2 linked regions of the Homo sapiens genome follow. The protein of the gene in region 2 interacts with the protein of the main gene of each other region in a biochemical or structural test. Each region holds a gene or a part of one and is shown on either strand. Other genes may lie near its edges.

What was found. Proteins that work in one complex are often made in the same cells at the same time.
Region 1: the proteins of BRAP (region 2) and CDC14A form a complex in vitro, tested with the Homo sapiens proteins (one study listed by BioGRID).

The regions. Positions count from the first base shown.
Region 1 is NC_000001.11:100,350,986-100,354,733, reverse strand, and holds the start of CDC14A (dual specificity protein phosphatase CDC14A), read right to left. Parts: upstream 2,229-3,748; 5' UTR 1,780-2,228; coding exon 1,731-1,779; intron 973-1,730; coding exon 882-972; intron 1-881. UniProt on the Homo sapiens protein: Dual-specificity phosphatase. Required for centrosome separation and productive cytokinesis during cell division. Dephosphorylates SIRT2 around early anaphase.
Region 2 is NC_000012.12:111,658,328-111,662,075, forward strand, and holds part of BRAP (BRCA1-associated protein), read right to left. Parts: intron 2,349-3,748; coding exon 2,273-2,348; intron 1,019-2,272; coding exon 880-1,018; intron 519-879; coding exon 409-518; intron 1-408. UniProt on the Homo sapiens protein: Negatively regulates MAP kinase activation by limiting the formation of Raf/MEK complexes probably by inactivation of the KSR1 scaffold protein.

The DNA of each region.
Region 1 (3,748 bases), on a different chromosome or scaffold from region 2:
CGTTTAAAATAGAATATATTAGACTCCTCTGAAACACCAGCTCTTTTCATAAAAGTACATAACCAAGTCAATTCAGCCTTCTTATTTCTTATTATCTGATACTTTTACTGAATAAAGATTTATCTCTCTTCAATTAATGTTTTACTATGCCTGAAGTATTAAGATATCTTTTTCCTGTAGATCAGTGGTCTTTCACAGAAAACAGTTCCCTACTTTTATTTTACACTCTCAAATCCTAATCCCACAGAAGCAAAGTAATCAAAGAAAATAAATCAGCACTGCTATATCATTTCCTTAGAAGCAAAGAAAATAATATCAAAAAGTTTGGGGTACCCAAATAAAAGAATCAATAATATGTCAGATAAAATGTTAGTCATAAATGTGACTCTGATACAGCTCCCCGCAGTTAATGTGTCCCACTTTCTGAAAAAGAGCTGCACAAACAAAAACATCCTGAGATAGAACAGAAGTCTTGTAAACTATAAAGCTCAAGCACCTGTAATACATGCACTGCCCTGTACCCTATGGCCACTCCATAAATACTTAGTGACTGATTCACAGGCCAATTACTGAGTCTGGCAATGACAGTGTGTCTCCCTGGTCCTACTCTGGGGAATGTTAGGAATCTCCAGTTGCTGTTTGTTGTGGTGGTAGGAAGAACTAAAACAGATAGATGTCTAAAAGAACTGAAGTGTTGAAAGGTTCAAATTCTGTCAATTTTCTCTGAACTTCTCCCCAGGCACCTGAGTCTTAAAAAATTGATATTGTTACTCGTATCATTGGGGGGGAAATGAATAAAACTGCCATAAAAGTGCATAGTGTTTCCTCGTCAAAGAACAAGCTGAATGGCCAAGAGAAAAAAAAACAAAACATAAACTTACTTTTCATAGACCAGCTCCTCATCGATGGAGAAATAGTGGGTATTTACTGTGCTTTTTGGTCTATTCCTTAAAGTAGCAAAATATAACCGATCTGAAAGACAAGTTTAAAAGACAGAAAAAACATATGAGAAGTAGAGAAGTGGAAGTGAAGGTGGGTGGTAACATACGAAGGATCACAATTTAAAGACCCCATTAACACGTGGAATTCTTGCAGAAACCTCATCCCTCCCAGAAAGCTAGAGACTCAAGAGCACAACAGTTAGGCAAGAGGAGGACCTGACCGAGGAACTCAGCGGGGCTCAGAGCACCCACATTTCCCTTGTTTCAGGCCAGCAGAGTAGGCAGGAGCTGGGGGTACCCGCAGAACTGGAGGTGCAAGTTTGGTTCCCAAATCTCCAGACCTCAGCAGCTGCGAGAAGGGGAAGAAAGAGGTGAGCCTCCCGACGCAGCTTCGGAGATTTGAAAAAGAGGAAGGGAGAGAGACTTGGGGGGTGTGGTTGGGGGTGTCCCGAAAACCGAAGCCTGCGATGGTGGAGTAAAGGTGACCGGTGAGCATCCGGAGCAGGCTCCCCATGAGCTGCTGAGTGCCGGAGTACGGGCAGAAGCCGGTGCTGTCCCATTACGAGGCCGAGAGGCCATCCGAGGGAGCTGCAGAGGGAGCAAGGGACACAAGAAAGAGAAGCCGGAAGCAGGGGGTCCTCGGAGAAAGGAGAGTCCCTAGAGGGGACGAGAGCGCGCGCAGCGGCTGCAGGACACTGGCAGCCTCAGGAGAAGGTGGGGACAGTGGCGCGGGAAGTGAAGAGTTGGGGGCAAGAAAGCGTTGGAAGATGCGGGGCGGCTGCTCCTCACCTTTCATGAACTCACAAGCCCCGATTAGTTCCCCTGACTCCGCTGCCATCTTAAGCGAGATACGCACGGGGGAGGGCTGGGTCGTGGCCAGCTGAAGTCACTCGCCCCCGGGGGCTTCCCCACTGCCCAGGAGCCAGGAAGCTCACAGTCCCGAACAACAAGCCTGGCCGAGGGAGGCAGCAGGCGCCGAAGGCGGAGGCGGCTTCGGGGTCAGCGCGCCGGGCGCCCCGGGGACATTCCGAGGGGAACCCGAGCTCGCTCCGCGCGGGGCGCTCACGCCCCTGGCTGTGGCCGCTCCTATTTGGACTCGGCTGCTGCAGCTGCTGCTCCGCCGCCGCCGCGCCTGGGAAACGCAGACCAGCTCTCAGGGCAGGGCAAAGTCTTCCCCCGGCTTCCAAAGTGATCATGGAGGAGGAGACTTCTGGTCCCGATCGCGCCCGTGGCTACTCGAGCGGCAGCCGGGAGGACTTCAGTGCCCGCGGGCTGGCAGCAGCTGCTCCGGATCCTCCTTCGCCACCTCCTTTCAGCAGTTACTCTTCCTCCTCCTCCTCCCCCTGGGTCCGCCCCCAGACCTTCCTCCCCGCCCTCCCTCAGCCCCCTCCACTTTCACGACTCCGCGGCCATCCCTTAAAGGGACAGCCCCGCTCCTTTCTCCGCAGCAGCCCCAGTTACCAGGCGCCCCGCGGGTCACTAGGAGCCGGTTGCTAAGGCTTTGTTGCCGTCCACCAATTGCTGTTCAGGAAACGGGGCCCTCGGCCCAGGGGAGCGGGCGGGGCCTGTAGGCCAGAAACTTATGAATGAAACGGCGGGGTTGAGAGTGGACATCGCCAAAGGCGCTGTCGCGGCCTCGGAGGCTAGGATGTGCTGGCGCCCCCTTTCTTTTCTGCACCCTCTAAGTCTTGTCCCACTCCAGATTTCTTTTCTCTCTCTCTCTCATTCTCTTTCTTTCTCGCCCACTCACCCATGCTCTTCTAAACTCTTGTAGGGCGCGCGCGCGCGCACACACACACACACACACACACACACACACTCGTAAAAACCTCAGATCTCCGTGCCCTGCCTCGCCTCTAGCTAACATTTCAGCCACCCCCCACGCCCAACACTGAGGGGGTCTGCATCTTTATAAAAAATACAATTGAAAAAGAAGCACCAGCTCCTAGCTCACAGTACATGTATTGGTTTCCTCTACACATACCAGACTCTGATATAACTTGTACTTTGTTCTCACGGGACAAAAAGTTTCCCATCTGGTTCTCCACGCCCTCTCATCTGGGCCGCCAATGTGAGCGCAAAAGCATCACAGATGCCTAATCTTTACAGTGCTCCGGTCCCGGAGGGGCGGGGCGAGACCGCTGAGCCAGCCTGGGCGGGCGCGGAGGGAACAGGAGAGAGAGGAGAGTCCACTGGTCCAAGGAGGAAGGTTAACACAAAGGAATTTCTTTACATAGTCTCAGCTGAAGCGCTCCAGGCAGGAGTCCCGCTAAAAGAGGCCATTGACTTGTCTCTGCGAGGCTCTACGTACTGTTTGAACAACTTGAACGCTGGGCGTCCTAAGGCTGTACCTAATCAGAGTGCAGTCCCTTCCATACGAAAATGGCGCTACAGACCGACTATCCGAAGAGCATGCGCTCTGAGAGGTCTCTCCAGAAACAGCAAGAAACTTGTGGCGGCGTTTTCCTTCGCAGTCGCTTGTTGACCTCTAGGGAGAAAGGGGGCGCACCCGTGCAGAGCTGACTGAGGGAACCAGCCCTTCGAGGGCCAATTGCAGGTTTTGTTTGTGGTTTTTTTTTTTTTAATGTGTGTTTTGTTTTAGACAGGGTCTCGCTCTGTCACCCAGGCCGGAGTGCGGTGGCTCAATCTCTGCTCACTGCAATCTCCACCTCCCGAGTACAAGCGATTCTCGTGCCTCATTCTCCCAAATAGTTGGATCTACAGGCGTGCGCCACCACACCCGGCTAATTTTTGTATTTTTTGTAGAGACCGGGTTTTGCCATGTTGGCCAGGCTCGTCTCCAGTTC
Region 2 (3,748 bases):
TTCGCTCTTGTTGCCCAAGCTGGAGTGCAATGACCCGATCTCGGCTCACTGCAACCTCTGCTTCCCAGGTTCAAGCGATTCTCTGCTTCCCGGGTTCAAGCGATTCTCCTGCCTCAGCCTCCCGAGGAGCTGGGATTACAGGTGTGTGCCACCATGCCCAGCTAATTTTTTGCATTTTTAGTAGAAACAGGGTTTCACGTTAGCCAGGCTGGTCTTGAACTCCTGAACTCAGGTGATCCACCTGCCTCAGCCTCCCAAAGTGTTGGGATTACAGGCATAAGCCACTGCGCCCGGCCATGACCAAACTTTAAAAAAAAAATGTACATCCAGGTAAATGACAAATATTTCAAATTAGAATAGTAAAGAGCAGTAGAAACAGATAGAGTGATAACTCATTAAATCTCTTACCTCTAACTGTAAGGCATCTATTTTCTCTTCCTGGCAAGTATCCCCCTCACATTCATACTGTACTATTTTTCCATCTGTTTTACTTGCAACCAGTCGATGAACATAGTTATCTACAGAAAGAGTCAACAAAAGTGTGTTTCTTTAGAATGAAAAGGGTCTCTGTACACTTTTAACTCTGACAAAATTTTTTTTTCAGATCTAATTTAAATGCCTTACAATATTTCTTTAAAAGTGTCAAATCATTTGAATTTTAGAGGGGAGGGAGAAAGCAAGAATGGAAGTATTAACTCCCTTTATAATGTGTGATTCAAGACATTCCTAGAAAAATAGTGCCCTCAGGGAAACTGAGAATTTGGGTTTGCAACAGCTGTCAAAAGATGACATTTCAAGCTGGGAGGGAAAGTGAAGGCGTTGTGAAGGCAAAGTTTCCACACAGAATGAGTCCAAATTAGAAAAGAGAGTGGTATTCACCTCCAGCATAGTCCCAGACTCGATGGTTGGTAAGCTGCATGGCATACGTGTGCTGCGTTTCCTCAAAGTGCTTATAAGCATGTCGACTGACATACCGTCCACATCCTATGTGGCCGCATATTAAACAAATCCAAAGATTCTGCCGGAAGAGGTAAGATCTTAATTAGTTAAATAAAAATAAATGATCTGGCTGGGCGCGATGGCTCGGAGGCCGAGGCAGATGGATCACCTGAGGTCAGGAGTTCGAGACCAGCCTGGCCAACATGATGAAACCCCATCTCTACTAAAAATACAAATATTAGCTGGGCGTGGTGGCAGCTGCCTGTAATCCCAGCTACTCAGGAGGCTGAGGCAAGAGAATCGCTTGAACCCAGGAGGTGGAGGTTGCAGTGACCCGAAATCGTGCCACTGCACTCCAGCCTGGGTGATAAGAACAAGACTCTGTCTTAAAACAAACAAACAAACAAATAATCGATCCAGCTCACTCAGAGTGGGAAGGAACCTGAGACACTAGAAGACAGAATTGTTGGTTGGGCACAGTGGCTCACACCTGTAATCCCAGCATTTTGGGAGGCTGAGGCAGGAGTATCGCTTGAGCCTAGGAGTTTAAGACCAGCTTGGGCAACATAGCAAGACCCCAACTCTACAAAATGTTTTTTTTGTAGAAAAAACAAAAACAAAATTTTTTAGAAAAAACAAAAACAAAACAAAACAAAACCTACTAGGCCATGGTGGCATGCACCTGTGGTCCCAGCTGCTTGGGAAGATGAGATGGGAGGAAGGCTTGAGCCCAGGTATTTGAGGTTACAGTGAACTATGATCATGCCACTGCACTCCAGCCTGGGTAACAGAATGATACCCTGTCTCAAAAAAAAAAGAAAAAGAAAAAGAAAAAACTGTTTCTACAGGAGCCTGAGTGATTAAATGTATGTTTAAAACCCAACAATCAAGGATGCTTTTATGGGTCATTTTTTTTTTGCTGATTTCTAAGGAGCACTATGTGAACAGCAAGAAAAAAATTCACAATTCATCAGTAAAAGTCTAAGCCTTTCAAAAGTGCAAAGAAAAAAGGAATAAATTTAGCTCAGGAGTAACATAATTTGTGTATTCATATGTCTTGCCCAACCCTAGACAAAAAGAAAAAAAATTTTAAAGAATTTAGGCTGGGTGCAGTGGCTCACACTTGCAATCCCAGCACTATGGGTGGCTGAAGTGGAAGGACCGCTCGAGGCCAGGAGTTCGAGACCAGCCTGGGCAACACAGTAAGCCCTGTCTCTTAAAATAAAAAATAAAAAATAAATTAAAAATAAAGAACTTAAGTCATACCAGGCAGAAGAAAACTCATGACAATTAAAGCTGCATTCTTTGTTCTTTTCCATCACCCATTACTTACTTCCTGAACACCACACTCAAAACACTTATTTTCTTCTACTGGCTCGGGCGTTTGACAGTACCGGCAAACAGGACACCTATCCAGGACACCAAAAGATAATGGTGCAGGTTAAATATAAAAGACAGCTGTTACAGAACCCAAAAGTCAAACACTGGATTTTATATCCTCCTCCTCTTATATGCTATTTTTATCATAACTAAGGATATCACTTAAAATAAAATATACAAAATAAAAATATACAAAATCTTGATAAAACAGAGAACAGAGAAATTGGGATCTGCCTCATGTCCTTTTCCGCTCTTATGTCTAAAGCTTAGATGATCAAAGAGCTAAGTATTTACAGGTTACAATTAGGACTTCATTTCATGTCTGATTATTTATAATTTTTTTTTTTTTTTGAGACAGAGTCTTGCTCTGTTGCCTGGGCTGGAGTGCAGTGGTGCGATCTCAATTCACTGCAACCTCTGCCTCCCAGGTTCAAGCGATTCTCCTGCCTCAGCCTCCCGAGTAGCTGGGACTACAGGCATGCACCACCACACCCAGCTAATTATTGTATTTTTGGTAGAGACGGGGCTTCACCATGTTGGCCAGGATGGTCTCGATCTCTTGACTTCATGATCCACTGGCCTTGGCCTCCCAAAGTGCTTGGATTACAGGTGTGAGCCACAGCTCCCAGCTTGTTTTTTTTTTTTTTTTTGAGACAGAGTTTAGCTTTTGTTGCCCAGGCTGGAGTGCAACGGCATAGTATCAGCTCACTGCAACCTCAGCCTCCTAGGTTCAAGCAATTCTCCTGCCTCAGCCTCCTGAGTAGCTGGGACTACAGGCATGCGCCACCACGCCCAGCTAATTTTGTATTTTTAGTAGAGACGGGGTTTCTCCCTGTTGGTCAGGCTTGTCTCAAACTCCCAACCTCAGGTGATCTGCCTGCCTTGACCTCCCAAAGTACTGGGATTACAGGCGTCAGCCACCGTGCTCAGCCTATAATGTATTTTTACTCCAACAAACAACCTGCCTTATCCCCATTTCCCAAAGATTTAAATCATTCAAAAAGTACCCTTTCTTCTCCAGGTTGCTCCTAAGAATTGGATTTAAAATCTGTAGTAAAAAAAAAAGGTTTTTTTTTTTTTTGTGAGACAGAGTCCTGCTCTGTCACTCAGGCTAGAGTGCAGTGGCGCGATCTCAGCTCACTGCAGCCTCTGCCACCCAGGTTCAAATGATTCTCCTGCCTCAGCCTCCCAAGTAGCTGGGATTGTAGGCATGCACCCCCATGCCCAGCTAATTTTTGTATTTTTAGTGGGCATAGGGTTTCACCATATTGGCCATGCTGGCCTCCCAAAGTACTGGGATAACAGGCATGAGCCACCGCACCTGGCTAAACACAAAGGTGTTAATGTACTTATTGAAATGCACATGATATCTCACTGCACCGTGAACATCATGTGGAAGATACCAGTGCTCTATCAGGCATTCATGTCT